2 separate regions of the Homo sapiens genome follow, and region 2 is linked to region 1. A link means that fine-mapping ties the variant in region 1 to the expression of a gene that starts in the linked region. Tissue or cell type: whole blood. Region 1 holds a variant in brackets; the other region holds the start of a gene. All regions are shown on one strand. Distances are from middle to middle. Region 1 overlaps RBL2 (RB transcriptional corepressor like 2). Region 2 holds the start of AKTIP (AKT interacting protein).

Evidence for each region.
Region 2: AKTIP starts here. The variant in region 1 is fine-mapped to the expression of AKTIP in whole blood (INTERVAL, PIP 0.93).

Annotation. Positions count from the first base shown.
Region 1 is chr16:53,472,932-53,481,463 of GRCh38, forward strand. RBL2 (RB transcriptional corepressor like 2) reads left to right here. Exons shown (of 22, transcript NM_005611.4): 18 at 6,223-6,294; 19 at 6,955-7,060; 20 at 7,636-7,838. Among named protein-coding and RNA genes, the nearest start is that of AKTIP, 26 kb to the right of the region's middle. The variant T/C (reference allele first, on the strand shown) is at 3,888.
Region 2 is chr16:53,500,040-53,508,154 of GRCh38, forward strand. It overlaps AKTIP (AKT interacting protein), which reads right to left and starts at 3,170. Exons shown (of 10, transcript NM_022476.4): 1 at 3,108-3,170; 2 at 179-290. The coding sequence starts at 220. LOC124903690 (a long non-coding RNA gene) reads left to right here and starts at 4,341. Exons shown (of 2, transcript XR_007065069.1): 1 at 4,341-4,381; 2 at 4,702-5,939. RefSeq lists enhancers at 2,366-2,867, 2,868-3,367, 3,828-3,927 and silencers at 2,638-2,937, 3,198-3,267, 3,288-3,527, 4,248-4,337.

The DNA.
Region 1 (8,532 bases):
CAGCACCATTGTTGAAAAGAAGATTTTTTTCCTCACTGAATGGCCTTGGTACCCTCCTTTAAAATCAATTGACCGTTGACAACATTTGGGTTTATTTCTGAACTCTAAATTCTATTCCACTGGACTATATGCCTATCCTTATGCAATACCATATTCTCTAGATTAGAGAGTTGCTTTCTTATAAGTTTTGAAATTGGGAAATATGAGTGCTCCTACTTTTTTTTTCTTTTCAAGATTATTTTCGAAGTCCCTTGAAAAATGAATTTTAGAATCAAATTATCAGTTTCACAAAGGAATAAGCTAGGATTCTGATAGGGTTGCACTGAATCTGTAGATCCATTTGGGGAGTATTGCCATCTTAACAATTTTATATCTTCTGATCCATGAACATAGGATGTTTTTCCATTTATTTAGATCTTCTGTTTTTTTTTCAACAATGCTTTGTACTTTTCAGAGTATGTTTGCAATTCTTTTGTTAAATTTATTCCTATTCTTGTTGATGCTATTCCAAGTGTAGTTGTTTCATTGTTAACGTGTTCATTGCAAGTGTATAGAAAAACACTTTTGTATATTGATCTAGTATCCAGCAACTTTGCAGAAGTTATTAGTTCTAATAGTTTTCTAGTAGATTCCTTAGGATTACTATGTAGGAAATCATGTAATCTGCTTATAATTTTACTTCTTGTCCAAACTGGATGCCTTTTATTTCTTTTTCTTTCCTAATTATCTTGCTAGAACTTCCAGTATAGTTGAACAGAACTGTCGAAAGCAGAAATCCTTGTCTTGATCTTAGGTGGAAAGCATCTAGTTTTTCACTATTAAAGTATGATAGTAGTTATGGTTTTTTTCATAGATGCCCTTTATCAGGTTGAGGAAGTTCCCTTCTTTTCTTAGTTCATTGAGTGTTTTTTTTATCATGAAAGGGCATTAGATTTTGTCAAATGCTTGTGTGTCCATTGAGATGATCGTGTGCTTATTTTTTTTATTCTATTAATATAGTATATTACACTGATTAATCTTCCTATGTTAAACCAGCCTTGCATTTCTGGTGTAAATCCCTCTCAGTCATGGTGTGTAAGTCTTATTTTTTTCTTTTTTTGAGACAGTGTCTCGCTCTGTTACCCAGGCTAGAGTGCAGTGGTGAGATCATAGCTCACTACAAGCAGTCCTCCCACCTTCATCTCCTGAGTAGCTGGGACTACAGGTACATGCTGCCATGCCTGGCTAATTTTTTAAATTTTTTGTAGACAGGGTCTACCTTGTTGCACAGGCTGGTCTCGAACTCCTAAGCTCAAGCAGTCCTCATGCCTCAGCCTCCCAATGTGTTGGGATTATAGGCGTGAGCCACTGCACCCGGCTGCTGTAATTCTTTTATTTATTTATTTATTTATTTATTTATTTTGAGATGGAATTTCGCTCTTGTTGCCCAGGCTGGAGTGCAGTGGCGAGATCTTGGCTCACCGCAACCTCCGCCTCCCAGGTTCAAGCAATTCTCCTGCCTCAGCCTCCCAAGTAGCTGGGATTACAGGCATGTGCCACCACCCCTGGCTAATTTTGTATTTTCAGTAGGGACGGGGTTTCTCCATATTGGTCAGGCTGGTCTCAAACTCCCAACCTCAGGTGATCCACCTGCCTCGGCCTCCCAAAGTGCTGGGATTATAGGCGTGAGCCACGGTGCCCAGCCTATAATTCTTTTTATATGTTGCTAGGTTTGGTTTGCCAACAGTTTGTTGAGGAATTTGTTTTCAGTTAAAAAAAATATTTATTTTTTCAAGTTTCCACATGCAGCAGTGATTGCTAAGGAATTTTATCCTTATGCATAAGAGGCATTGGTCTGTAGTTTTCTTGTTGTGGCTTTGTCTGGTTTTATTATCAGGGTAATAATGGTCTCATAGAATTGAGTAGGAAGTGTTCTCTTCTATATTTAGGTATTATATTTTTTCCTTTGCCTTTTTTTTTAATTTACAGCTGCCTGAAAGACCCATGGATATGAGCTTCTTGGTATTAATGTTTTAAAGTTTGGTAGAATTCAGCAGCGAAGCTGTTGAGACCAGAGATTTTCCTTGTGGGAAGTTTATTGGTGAATAATTCCGTCTCTTATTTGTTATAGGTCTATTCAGATCATCTGTTTCTTCTAGAATCAGTTGTGGTAGTGTATGTCTTTCTAAGAATTTGTCTGTTTCCTCTGGGCTAAATTGTTGGCAAATAATTATAATATTTCCTTCTGTTCTTTTTTATTCTTTAAGGTCAGTAGTAATGTCCTTTTCCTTTTATGATTGTAGTTTTCGTTTTGTTTTGTTTTTTGAGACAGTCTCACTCTGTTGTCCAGGCTGGAATACAGGGGCATGATCTTGGCTTACTGAAACCTTAGCCTCCTGGTTTCCAGTGATTCTTGTGCCTCAGCCTCCTGAGTAGTTGGGACTACAGGCCTGTGCCACCTCGCCCAGCTAGTTTTTGTATTTTTAGTAGAGATGGAATTTCCCCATGTTGCCCAGGCTGGTCTCAAACTCTTGGCCTCAAGCGATCCATCCACCTTGGCCTCCCAAAGTGCTGGGATTGCAGGCATGAGCCCCTGTGCCCTGCTTTTTGTAGTAGTTTGAGACTCCTCCCTTTTGTTCTTGGTCTAGCTAAAGGTTTGTCAATTTTCTTGATCTTTTTCTTTTAAAAACCAGCTTTTTGGTTTCATTTATCTATTTTTGTGTTCTTTATTCATTAGTATATAATCTTATTTCCTTCTTTCTGCTTACTTGAGGCTTACTTTTTGCCCTTTTCTGTTGTTTTAAGATGGTTTAAGATGGATGTTTAGGTAATTAATTTACTATTTCTCTTAATATCTTTTTTCCCCAAATCCTTTACGTAGATATCAGTATCTTTTAAAAGATACCTTTCTAATATTTCAATATCTTTTTTTTTTTTTTTTTTTTTTTTTTTTGAGACAGCATCTTGCTCTGTCGCCTAGGCTGGAGTGTAGTGCTCACGGCAGCCTTCCTCCAGGGCTTAAGTGATCCTCTTCCCTAAGCTTCCTGAGTAGCTGGGACCACAGCCGTGCACCACCATGCCCTGCTAATTTTTTGTAGATACGAGATTTTGCTGTGTTACCCAGGCTGGTCTCGAACTCCTGAGCTCAAGCAATCCTCCCTCCTCAGCCTCCCAAAGTGCTGGGATTACAGGTGTGAGCCACCGCCCTTGGCCCTTCTTCATTTTCAGTGTAAGCATTAACAACTCTAAATTTTCCTCCGTGCACTGCTTTAGCTGCATGAGTGTTGGTATGGTGTGTCTTCATTTCAAAAGTATTTTCTGATTTCTTTTTTTGGCTTCTGTTTGACTCACTGGTTATGTAGCAATATGTTGTTAACTTCGTATTTGTAAGTTTCCCAAATTTGTTACTGATTTCTACTTTCATTGTGATTGAAAACACACTTCATTTTATTCCAGTTCTTTTAAATATATTAAGAATTGTTTTATAGCCTAGCATATATGCTCTATCCTAATGAATTTCAAAGTACATTTGAGAACAGTGTGTATTCTGTGGAGGTTGGGGAGAGTGTTCTGTAGATGTCTGTTAGGTCTAATTGTTTTATATTGTTAGTAAAGTGTTTTGTTTCCTTGTTGATCTGCCTAGATCATCTCTCCATTCTTGAAAGTGAGGTACTGAAATCTATAAATATTATTGCTGAATTGTCTACTTTTCCCTTCACTTCTGTCACTTTTCGCTTCAGGTATTTTTTGTGCTCAGTTATTAGGTATGTGTATAACTGTTATAGATTCCTGATGGCTTGATCCTTTTATCATTATGGAATGTCCCTTTTTAATAACTTTTTTTGTCCTGAAGTCTGATTTATAGTGTGAGATATATAGTCACCCAGCTTTCTTATGGTTGCTGTCTG[T/C]ATACCTCTTTCCATCCTTTCATTTTCGAATGTATTTGTATTTTTTAAATCTAAAATGTCTCCTGTAGATAAAATACATTTGGATTTCTTTTGCCTTTTGACTATGTATATAATTGGATTTACATCTGCCATTTTACTTTTTGTTTTCATGTCTTTCCCTTTGCCTTTGCAGCTTTGCTTTTGCATTAGGTCAATATTTTCTAAAGTAGCATTTTAACGTCAGTACTTTGGTTTCATTTTGTGTGTGTGTGTGTGTGTGTGTGTAGTGGTTGCCCTAGGGCTTACCATATATCTCTTATCAAAAATCAGCTTCAGATTATACTGACTTAATTCCAGTGAGATATAGGAGTGTTAACTGTTTCGTTACACATATTACATCCATAAATGTACAACTCCACCAGTACATTGTTATAATTATTGATACAATTTTATGACTTCTAAAGTAGCAGAAAGGAAAGGAGTGTAAGTATGTATTTAAAACTTTTGCTCTAGTAACCTTATTAATAATTTCTGGTTTCCTTTCTTTCTTTCTTTTTTAAGACTGAGTCTTGCTCTGTCGCCCAGACTAGAGAGCAGCGGTGCAATCTCAACTCACTGTAACCTCTGCCTCCCGGGCTCAAATGATCCTTCTGCCTCAGCCTCCCATGTAGCTGGGCCTACAGGGTGCAGGCATGTGCCACCATGCCCGGCTGATTTTTGTATTTTTTTGTAGAGACGGGGTTTTGCCATGTTGCCCAGGCTGGTGTCGAACTCCTGGCCTCAAGCAGTTCACTTGCCTCAGCCTCACAAAATGTTGGGATTACAGGAGTAGCCACTACACCCAGCCTATTTCTATTTCTCTTATTCATTCCTGTGTATGTGAGTTGCCATCTGGAGTAATTTCCTTTGCTCAATATGGCTTTGCTCCTGCCTACCTCCTTTGTACTGTTGTAGGCAAATATGTTACATTTTTGTATGTTATGGGTACATTATATATATATATTATTTATACAATTGATTTTTTAATCAGTTAAGAAAGGAGAAGAAATGTGCAGTTATACTGTATTTACGATTACATAATTATCTTTACCAGTGCTCTTGGCTTTCTTCATGTGTAGTGTTGTCCAGGGGCATTTGCTTTTGGCTTCTAGAATTTTGTGTAGTATTTCTTGTAAGGGGTTTGCTAGCACCAAATTCTGTTTTTGTTTATCTGAGAGTATATTTATTTTACCTTCATTTCTGAAAGATAACTTGCAAAAATTTTGAATATTGACATTTCAGAGATAAAAATCTTGAGTAACTTTTTAATACTGGATTCTTAGTTTAATATTTTTTCTTTCATCACTTTGAATGTTATCCCACTGCCTCCTGGCCTCTGTAGTTTCTGATTAGAAGTCAAATTTTATTTTATTGGGGTTTCCCTGTAACTGAAAAGTTGTTTTTCTCTTGATGCTTTTAATATTTTCTTTCTTTGGCTTTGAACATTTTTACTGTGATATATCTGGGTACGGATGAGTTTATCCTACCTGGAAGTCACTGAATGTCCTGGATATGTAATTTAATAAATTTGGGAAGTTTTCAGTATTTCTTTGAACATTTTTTTCTGCTTCTTTCTCTCCTCTCCTGATTCTCCCATTACACGTATGTTGATTTCCTTAATGGTGTGCCACATTTCTCTGAGGCTGTTTTTCTTCATTCTTTCTCTGTTCCTCAGATCACACAATCTCTTTCTTCATGTTTGCTAATCCTTTTTTTTTTTTTTTTGCTAGTTCAAATCTGTTTTCCCTAGCTTCTAGTGAATTTTTCATTTCATTTACTGTACTTTTCTACTCCAAGTCTTTTTTTGAGAGAGAGTCTTGCTCTGTCACCCAGGCTGTACAGTGGCTCAATCTCAGCTCACTGCAACCTCCATCTCCCAGGTTCAAGTGATTCTCCTGCCTCAGCCTCCCCAGTAGCTGGGATTACAGGCATGTGCCACCATGCCCGGCTAATTTTTGTATTTTTAGTAGATACTGGGTTTCACCATGATGGCCAGGCTGGTCTTGAACTCGTGACTTCAAGTGATCCACCCTCCTCAGCCTCCCAAAGTGCTGGGATTACAGGTGTGAACCACCGCACCTGGCCTCTAAGTCTTGATTCACATACTATAGACTCCTATTGTTTTTATTGAATTTTAATAGATATTCTTGAATCGATGTATCTTCATTTGCTATATGCCGTTAATACCATTTCCAGAGACTTTAAATAGCTTTTATATAATTTTCACCCCTTTTACTGGGCAGCAGGTTCACAGAGCTCCTCACACTATTATGGTGGTAGTTGCCATGTCTCTCAGAGCACTCTTATTGTTTGCCAGGTCACAAAAGAAGATAAGTCCTTCCAGAACATTATGCGTTGTTATAGGACTCAGCCGCAGGCCCGGAGCCAGGTAACTACATTTTCTCTATGGGCTGAAAAATAAAGCTTAAAGTCTGTGATGAATACAAAAAATTAACCATAGTTGACTCTGTGGCCTTTTTTCCAAGATAAACACCTGGGACTCTACTTAAGGGAAGTTTCTACTTTAATCTTTATTCTTGATGTCACATGTTGATTAAGGTCTCTTTTCCTCAAAAGGCAACAATGTTAAATATTTGATTGCCTTCTTAATTCAGAAAAATCACAAGATAGGAATTAAGAAGTTACTTGGTTTCTATGTCACCTTTCATTCTGGTTTAGTAAACATACTGTAGGTTTAACCAACAGAATGTCACATGGAAATTTAAAACCCACTTTGCCTTTATTACCATTCATCTCTGAGAGGCAAATCGGCCAGATCTGTGTATCTTACTTAGAATGACTTGACATTATGGTTGGGTGCTGTCACTGCAGTGTAGTACTGCAGGTAGTACTTGGCATGTGATGCTAGATGGGCTCTGATTGAATCCTGGATCTGTTATAATTTGAGTTATGTTTCTCAACCTGTTCTGAGGACAACTATTGCTATACAGGTTATTGTGAAAACCAAGTAACATATGTGAAGGTCCTATCACCAAGGGTGTGCTCAACAAATACTAGTTTATGTCCCCTTCTCATTGTTTCTCTAAAGGTGTATAGAAGTGTTTTGATAAAAGGGAAAAGAAAAAGAAGAAATTCTGGCAGCAGTGATAGCAGAAGCCATCAGAATTCTCCAACAGAACTAAACAAAGATAGAAGTAAGTGGGATCTTTGTGAACTACAAGACAAAATTAGGAGCTTTTCTTACTTTTTAGGCCTTGAAGAAGTAACTAAGCATTACTAAATGAAATAACTATAGAAACTATGAAAGTGTTTTATAGATCAGTAAACCATATTCTAGCTGGCAAAACTGTCCATTACATAGCTTTGGGGCACATATTATGTAACATTTTTCTCCAGGAGAATTAGAGCTTTCAGGGAGGAATCTGCTTGCCTGAGTTCCAGAAAGGTCTGATATGTCAATTGGAACCATGCTATGGAAATACCATCCCCTGCCTGTTGCTTTGTACCACTTAGTACAGGGCTTAGGTCCTAGAAAATTTGGTGTAACTTATTAATGGACACTACTCAGAAAGCCCTTGCTATGGTTATGGCATAGGGAGAAAGTTAATATCCTAGCTGAGCTTTGCTTTTTGGTGTGAAGAACAGAGTGCCTATTCACTGTTATTAGCAAGTAGTGCAGGTAGCTGTTCCCTTTCTCCTACTTTTAAAAAATTAAAACAGTCAATATTAGCAGCCTTTGTACTGACAGCCTTTGTTCTCCTGGCTGCAGCCAGTAGAGACTCCAGTCCAGTTATGAGGTCAAGCAGCACCTTGCCAGTTCCACAGCCCAGCAGTGCTCCTCCCACACCTACTCGCCTCACAGGTGCCAACAGTGACATGGAAGAAGAGGAGAGGGGAGACCTCATTCAGTTCTACAACAACATCTACATCAAACAGATTAAGACATTTGCCATGAAGTACTCACAGGCAAATGTAAGTATGACAGGGATTATTTCATACTTTTTTCACTCATGAGTGTTGAGGAATCATTTATGATTTATATATGGACCATTCACCTGGTCCGTATATAAACTAGTTTTGGCCAGGTGTGGTGGCTCACACCTGTAATCCCAGCACTTTGGGAGGCCGAGGAGGGCAGATCACTTGAGGTCAGGAGTTCAAGACCAGCCTGGCCAACGTGGTAAAACCCAGTCTCTACTAAAAATACAAAAATGAGCTGGGCGTGGTGGCACACACTTGTAATCCCAGCTACTCTGGGGGCTGAGGCAGGAGAATTGTTTGAACATGGGAGGCGGTGGTTGCAGTGACCTGAGATTGTGCCACTGCACTCCAGCTTGGGTGACAGAACAAGACTCTGTCTCATAAATAAGCTAGTTTTACAAATAATTCTATTAAGTAAAACTGAGGAGGTCTGTAATTTACCTAACCAATATAAATTCTACTGTTGTTAAGCATTAAACGAGTAAGATTGTATTTGGAGTCCCTACAAAGTATAGTAGTACAAGAGACAGGCTACATGGGTTCAAATTTTCCAGTACTTAACAGTGGTGGTAACCTTGCAAATCATTAAATTTTCTCTGTACCTCATTTCCTCATATATAAAATGGGAATATAACTAGTTCCTAGCATATGGGGTTGTTGTAAGGATGAAATGACATAATGTATA
Region 2 (8,115 bases), 27 kb after region 1:
AACAGACTTCAACCAACAAAATAATTATTTCTCAAGAGTAAACCCTTAACTAGAAAAACCAGGTAATTTTGTCAAGATTACAGGTGACCGTGACAGATTATTTTAGCCTTCATTCTGACCCTATTTTCAGACACAGAAGCAAATGGGTTTTCTTACTGAATTTATCAACTATACCTACTTTGCGTACAGAGCTTGTAGACATGCTCCAGAAAGGGTTCATAACGTGTATTCCAAACAAAGAAAGTCAGTGGTGTATCATCCAAATCTTCTGTCTTCGGCATTCACTTTACCTTAAAACAAGACGGGAAGACATAGAAACATGCCAACACCAACCATTAAGACTTTTTTTTTTTTTTAAGATGGAGTCTCACTCTGTTGCCCAGGCTGGAGTGCAGTGGTGTGATCTCGGCTCACTGCAACCTCCACCTCCTGGGTTCAAGCGATTCTCCTGCCTCAGCCTCCTGAGTAGCTGGGATTACAGGTGCCTGCCACCATGCCCAGCTAAGTTTTGTATCTTTAGTAGAGACAGGGTTTCACCATGTTGGCCAGGCTGGTCTCGAACTCCTGACCTCAAGTGATCCACCTGCCTCAGCCTCCCAAAGTGCTGGGATTACGGGCATGAGCCACCACGCCCGGCCAACAGTTAAGACTTCTGAAATGATGAATAACTAATTATGACACCCTGGATATACAATATAATGTTATATAACAAGGGGTTATAAAAACCTAGGAAAAGGTCTTCAGGCATCTTCAGAAATAGTTTCCTTCTATACCCACCTCCTTTTCTGGTTCTAATTTCTTTCACACTTAGATGTCTATAAGAATCTGTGCACCAGGTCCCTTGGCCAGGATTCAGATTACTCAGTGACACAGATGAGCTTTGGTGCCAGAAATTCAGAAGATACGGACAACAGTTGTTACTAGCACATCTCGGCATTTAACTAACAGGAAAGCCAGACTCAGAATGCACTGTACCCACATACACATAAGTTGTATCACTGTTCCCAGGGTTATGGGAACAAACAATAGATACAAGGAGGCTGATTTAAGCGCTGCCTCAACTCACCTGAGTACAAAATGATTCCTCCAGCAAAGTATTAGCCAAAGAAATAAGAGAAAACAGGAAGGCACAGCACAAGTATGTCACTAAGACGACAAAAGTAGTTACCTGAGTCCTGTCAGTACCATCCCCCAATAAACTGCCTTCTACAACTTCGAAACATATAGAAACTGCAGGATCATGTACTTAAGGAACTGCCAAGCAATCCAGACAAATGCAACACAGGCACGCAAGAGAGACATTTCACAAGTACAGATCTTCCAGCCGAAGCTTCAAGTCGTGGATAAGAAAGCATGTCTCAAAGGTCATAAAGTCAGTGGGTCATTTACTAAAAATACAAAGAAGCAAAGGAAAAGCAGCCAAGCCCAGCTGTAAGAACAGCAACTTCCCTGCCCTGGTATTTCCCCCCAGGCTCTGTTACCTTTAAAGCAGAGCTCCTTCTCTGAATTCCTACTTGCACCAATCAAACGGCTGAAGGTGAAAAGGGTCAAAACTAAGCAACGTTTTCCTAATTTCTTAAACAGATCATGAGCAAACCATGTACTAAATGTCCCCAATCAGCAATAATTTGTCTTCTCTGACGAGCTTGTGACATCCAGGGACGTACCCAACCCAGGTCATCCATACCTTGCCAGTGCCCATTACTGCTGTTTTGTTTTCCAAGAGAAAATGCCACCCAGTAATTAAATCAGAGGAATGAAGATCCTGGCTCTTCTACTAGCATGGATAACATGCAATAAGTAACAACAGTTCTCCGCAAATCTGCCTTTAAAGGTGAGTATGACACACTGAATATACTTGAGATATCAAAAATGTGCGGGGGCATGTTCCCCTTTGGCTCAAATGAAGACACTGATTTTCAGATCTAGCAGTAATGTGCAGCACCCCAGTGTCCTCTAGGACACACCTAACACGGGACCGGATCCCTTGGGACACAGTGGTGTGCTCCACAACATACATTTAATGGGCTGGTGCAAACCTGTAAAGTCTCTTAAAGGTCTAACGCGTTAGGATTCTCTTTAAGAATCCAGTAAATTTTGTCCCCAGTTCTGCCTGTCATTAAGCAGGAGGTATTGTCTTCTGCTGCCTAACTTTGCTATGGATCTTTTAATCCAATGTTTCCAGCAGCAACATAATCACGAGAAACTGTAGCACACTTTTCAGGGTCTAGTCTAGGACAAGCACAGCATACATGTTCTGAGAGGAATGACATAGATGGAAGCAAGACATGTTACATCCTTGTCACTTGGAAACAATTTTAGAATTTCTGCCTGTTTGGCCACGGCTGCATTCCTTTACATCACCCAGCTGAGAAGTCTGGGTCTTCAGCCTGCGCGAATGACAGTGCGTGGCAGAGCTAAAACTAGGCTAAAACATGAGTGCTGCTGTTACTCTACATGCCACAGCGCACTCACATCACCCCGAATCGGACTTAAGAAATTACACGTTAAGAGGAGACAGAGCAGGGGCCAGAAAAAAAAAGATGAAAACGGCCCGGGCCAGGCTCGCTGGGGACAGCCGGGACCCGCGGCGGCCTCGGACCGGCACCCTCACCGCGGGCGGAAACCCGTCTCTGAGCACTCAGGGAATCTGGACAAACCTGTCTCGAGGTGATGCAAGGCGGGGGCCCTGTCCTGGCCTCGCAGCTAGCTCGATGCTGGCCCGGGAGCCGCGGGCCCCTCCAGTGGGGGGGCTCTGGGGCCCGGCGACGCCCCCTTAACCAGAGCTCGGGGTCGGGACCCGGCCGGGGAGGGCGGGCACGGGCCGGGGCGAGCCAGCTGGGCCCCCCTCTCCCTCGGGCCGGGCCAGCCCAGCTCCAGCCGCAGTCCCCAGCAGCAGTCCCGGGCTGCGAGGCGGCCAGCGCAGCAGGTGCCTGCAAACGCGCACAGGTGCCCGGCCCCGCCTCCGTGTCCCACTGCGGCCGCCGTCGCCGAGTCGCGAGCGCCTAGAAAGATGGACAAATGCCGGGCCCGTGGAGGCTGGCGGCCAGATTTACAGACACCTCAGCCCTCGCGTACCCACCAGCCTGCCGGGCAGTAAGCCTCACCCCAGTGCCTTCAATGCAGAGCTCCTGGCTGCCAAGCGCCGCCGCGGCCCGACAGCATCTCCCGCCGCAGCGCCAGCCCTGCCCCTGCTTGATCCCCGCCCCGCCCCACCCCGCCCTGCCCTGCCCTGCCCTGCCCTCGGCAGCGGGCTCCGCCCCCTGCTGCACGATCCTGGGGCCCGAGGCTTCCGCCTGGCCTCCCGGCGCCAACTGGCTCTCACACCTGCCCGTCAAAGACGTTCTTCCGGGGGCGTTGGGAAGAACACACTCGGTCCTGCAAATCAAATCACCCCGGTTTGGGTGGGACTGCACTTGACCCTCCCCTTACGTAACAGCGCCTGGGACGGCCTGTCAGTCATGGAAGTATCGGCCCCCCGGGGAGGGATGGGGCAGAGACAAACAAGCGCCGGGTCACAATTGGCCAGGGCGTCTGCCAGTCACCACGGAGACCTTCCCGGAGGTTTATTCGCACAGCCCACAGCGCAACCGCCATGCGCAGGGGCTGGGGCATACGCTAACGTCTGCAAGCCAAGCTTTTGGGGAGGGCCGGGCCGCGCGACTGCCCAGTGGCTCCCATCGCTAGGTCCTACTGCGTTGGGCGGCGCTGCGAGGCCCGAGGCCGCCACGTCGGGCCCACAGGGTACCAGGGGTCAGAAGGACACTTGGCGTGGCATCAAGAAACGCCCGTTCTCTCCATCAGTGCAGGAGCTGAAGGCTGGAGCTGAAGGGAGCTCAGCTCCAAGTGGGCCCTGGGCACTAGAGCAGCCAGAGGAGCTTTGTAAATCTGTGTGTGTCGGCCCCGACCTGCAGCATCCGAGTGGGGGCCGGGGGCTGGGGGGAGGGGGGAGGCTGAGGACCAGGAATCCACATCTGTCACAGTTCGCTGCTGATTCTGGCGCACACTGAAGTTGGAGAACCTCTCCCATAGCAACATAGTTCCTGGTCTTTTTTTTTTTTTTTTTTTTTAATTCACACGCTCTCATTTGGACCTCCCGTCTGCTTTCCCATGGAGGTCTCTCTCTGGCCTAATTCTGTGACTGCTGCCAGCTGCTTTCCAGGCCTGTTCTTACCAACGGTGCCTCCCCGTGGTTAGTCCGTCCAATCTCGGCACTCCACTTCCACACTTGCGCGACAGCCCTCTCCCCGCAAGCCCCTGCCCCTTTTCTAGACACCAGAGGCACTGACCTGTCTGTGACACCGCCTCAGTGTCTTACACTCAGAAGCCGCATTCTCTGGCCGGGTTGTTTGGTCCATTTTTGGTTGCCTCTGAGATTCTGGTAAGTGACTTATTAAAGGGCAGGAAGCCAAATTCTCCTGATGTTAATCCCAAGGGTTGGTTCTGAAACCCAGCTTCCTCCCCTAGCTGAAAACACTTCTGAGCCACTTCCTTTTGTCCCCTTAGGACACATTTAGGAATGTTATCATGCCTTTTAATACGAGTCTTAATACAGAAAGGCAGGCAAGCAGGAAATCCTTTTTTCAGGCCACAGGTGGTCTCCTTTGGCACCTCTGTGGCCCATTTCCTCCCAATCTTCTTTGAAGCTCATTATCCTCTGCAAAGCTTTTTTTCTGCTTTCCTCCTTTCCCCAACCTTCAGTTTTCACCGAGGACCCACATAGGTATTTCTCCAGCTCACATCTATCCACTGAGCTTCCAATGCATGTCATCAACTGCGTACTTGGCACCGGATGACTCAGACGCACACCAGCATCAGACTGCACATGGCAGGAAAGCCAACTCAAACCGGCTTACTTAGCAAGGGGATTTCTCTCCCATGGGAGGATTGTCTCCAGAGGTGGTGCCCTGGTCTTCAGGCTCTGCTTTCCTTGCAGTCCCTGGAATTGCACTTTCAGGCTGGTAGCAAGATGGCCGCGGCACACCCAGGATCTCACAAAATTAAAAGTATCCCTTTCTTCCAGTGGTCCCTTTTGAAATACATGACTACCTTTCCCAGAAGCTCCGCAGAAGAAATGCCTGCAGGTTTCAATGGCCAGAAGTAAGTCTCTGGCCACAACGAAACCCAGTCAACGGCAAGTGGAAGGAGTCCGCCATGATCGACTTGGGCTGAGATTTTCCCTAGATCTCTGCCTGGACTTTAGGCAGAGGAGAGCCATGATCAGATTTGTATTTTGAAAACATCACTTTGTGCGGAAAACAGATTGTAGGGGCACAAGGCTCACGGGGCAGTTGAGGAACCATGGCAGTAGTTCAGGCAACAGAGAATCGCATGAATTTGAAGGTAGAGATGGAGAATTGAATGAGTTCCAGAGATGTTTAAGACGGGATGATATAGTTTGGATATGGTTTGACCCTTCCAAACCTCATATTGAAATGTGACCCCCAATGTTGAAAGTGGGGCCTGGTGGGAGTATTTGGGTCATGGAGGCTGATCCCTCATGAAAGGCTTGGTGCTGTCCTGGCAGTAGTGAGTTCTTGGCAGTAGTGAGTGAGTTCTATTAGTTCCCGAGAGAATTGATTGTCAAAAAGAGCCTGTCACCTTCTCCTCCCCTGACCACTGCTCTCTCTCTTGCCAAATGATTCCTGCTGGCCTCTCCCTCTGCCATGAATGGAAGCTTCCTGAGGTCCTCACCAGAAGATGCTGGTGCCATGCTTCTTATACTTAGTTGCCTCTGTCTTTCATTTGACATATATTTATTGCATGCTTAATGACATCTAGGCTTTAAATGCTGGGGAGGCGTTGGAGAACAAAACAGACATTGTTCCTCCTCATGGAGCTACGGGAGATAGATGCTAATCAAGTCATCTCCCAAATCAATGGCTAATTGCCCCAAGGAAGTGGACAATGAGCTGAATAAACCTCTTTTTAAAAATAAATGACCCAGCCTCAGGTATTCCTTTATAGCAACACTGATGGATTCATACAGGTGGGGTGGACAGAGCTTGGCCATGGACTAGGTATGGGGGATGAAGAGGCAGATATGGCTGACACCTAGATTTTTAGCATGAGCTACAGGATGGATGGTGAGGCCATTCACTGAGGTGACAAACAGTGAACCACAAGCAGGTTTGGGACAGTGGGAAATGGGAAAATCTGGGTTGTGTTTTGGGTAGGTATGTTTGGGGTGTTTCTGTAAGCACTATTGCCTGTATACCTAATACCCACTTCTCCCTTTTTCATTGCTGACAGAACCTCCATTTTCTTGAGGAATTTAAGCCCTTCAGTGGTTCCCCATTGGGCAAAGACCAAACTCCTCACCATGGCTGTGTCCCAGCCCCAGGTGGCTGCAGACTCCAGCCACTCTGACATTCTTCCAGTTCCTTGGAAGGGAGTTGCTCCCCTACCTGCCCTGCCACAAAAGGGGCCTTCGCAGTGAACGTTCCCTTTGCCCAGTTCATTCTCTTCAATCCCCTACACAGATCTCAGCTCTAACACTACTTCCTTGGGGGCAATTTGCTGTTGATTTGGGAGATTATTAGTGTCTGTCTCCCACACTGTAAGCTCCTGAGGAGGAACCATTTTTTTGCTTTCTATTGTCTCCCCGGCACCCAAGAGCTAGATGTTGTAGGCATGCAATAAATATTTGCCAAATGAAGGACAGAAGAAACAAAAGTACATTTGAAACACCTACCTGCACGCCCACAGGTCTGCACCAAGAAAGCAACTCATTATGAAAATCAGGATGATTTATTCAAAGGGAAATGAGGAGGTGGCCTCAAGGTACCATTTCTTTAAGACTAAAACATAAAGTGCTGAGAAAAATCTCAATGGACCCAAAACCTTACCTATAAAACATTTTAAATCGCTTCATATTACATTTCCTATTCTCAATTTTTGAAGCATATTTGATATATTTGCACCAAAAGGTTCTTTTTGCATCCAGACTTAATAGATATGTGATCTCTGAGTATTCAGGACTTCTGCTCATGTTCTAATCAGCAAAATATTCCCTGAATCATACATCTTTTGGACTCCGGAAAAGTAACTGTACAAAGCTGTTTAGATCACTGACTTAACTATTAAAGGCCTTCACAGAAAGAAGGAAAGGATAAAATGTTGAAGGTTGTTAAAATACATATGTTTCATACACAGGCACACATATAAGCCGATGTTTTTAGCGCAATCCATTTGCCCCCAAGTCCTTTTCTGAAAAGTAGATTCCTGTATACATGTCACTGATTACATATACTGTTCAAAATATGGGAGGATGATCTAGCTATACATATTAATGTCTTTGAAAAAATATACTTAGCACATTAAAGCCATTATTTTATGGGTAATAATGTTTAGGATGAGACCAAAGTAGGCATTTAATGTTGTTGTTTTTTTTAAGTAAATGGATTTAAGGGAGATCAGATAGTTGTCCTATAGTTAACAATGATCCTCAGACAAGACAGAAATCACAAACTTTTAAGAATTATTGAAGGTTTAGAAATGCTGCTATAGACGGATGATGTGGCTTTCTTCCTTTCCATAGCCTCATCGAGCGATACGGTTCTTGCTTATAACATCACACATGTGCTTCCAGGTTTTGGTTGCATCATGTTTTCCTCCCTATCCCATTACCCATAACTCCTATCCCTGAGCAAGTGGGTGGGCGGGTGGAGGAATGAATTTTACAGACAGACTACAACATTTCAAAATGAAATCAGGGTAGCTGATGGACCACTGCGGATATTTATGTCTTAAGGAAAAGCAACCAATATATGATACGGCTGCTCATTCAGGGCTGAAGAGAACTGATTTCCTTTTATAATCAAACAGCATTTTGAACGTGGTCTGACACCGCAAATAATCCCCACTCCCTCAGCACGCTGATGACTGTACCCACAGCCATAAGAGCAGTGTTCTCTTTGATTCAGTTTATCTTTGGGAAACCACTTCACTCTGTGGTCTCAAAGCATTTGGAATGATGATAAAGGCTTGAGTTAGTTTTATCTAGAGTGGCACACTCAGAAAACCAAAGAGAGAGAAAGCAATACTCTTTCAGGGAAGGGTACTATTCCAGGCACAGACACCTTTTCTTTCTTGCAATAGGTAAATGGTGATTCC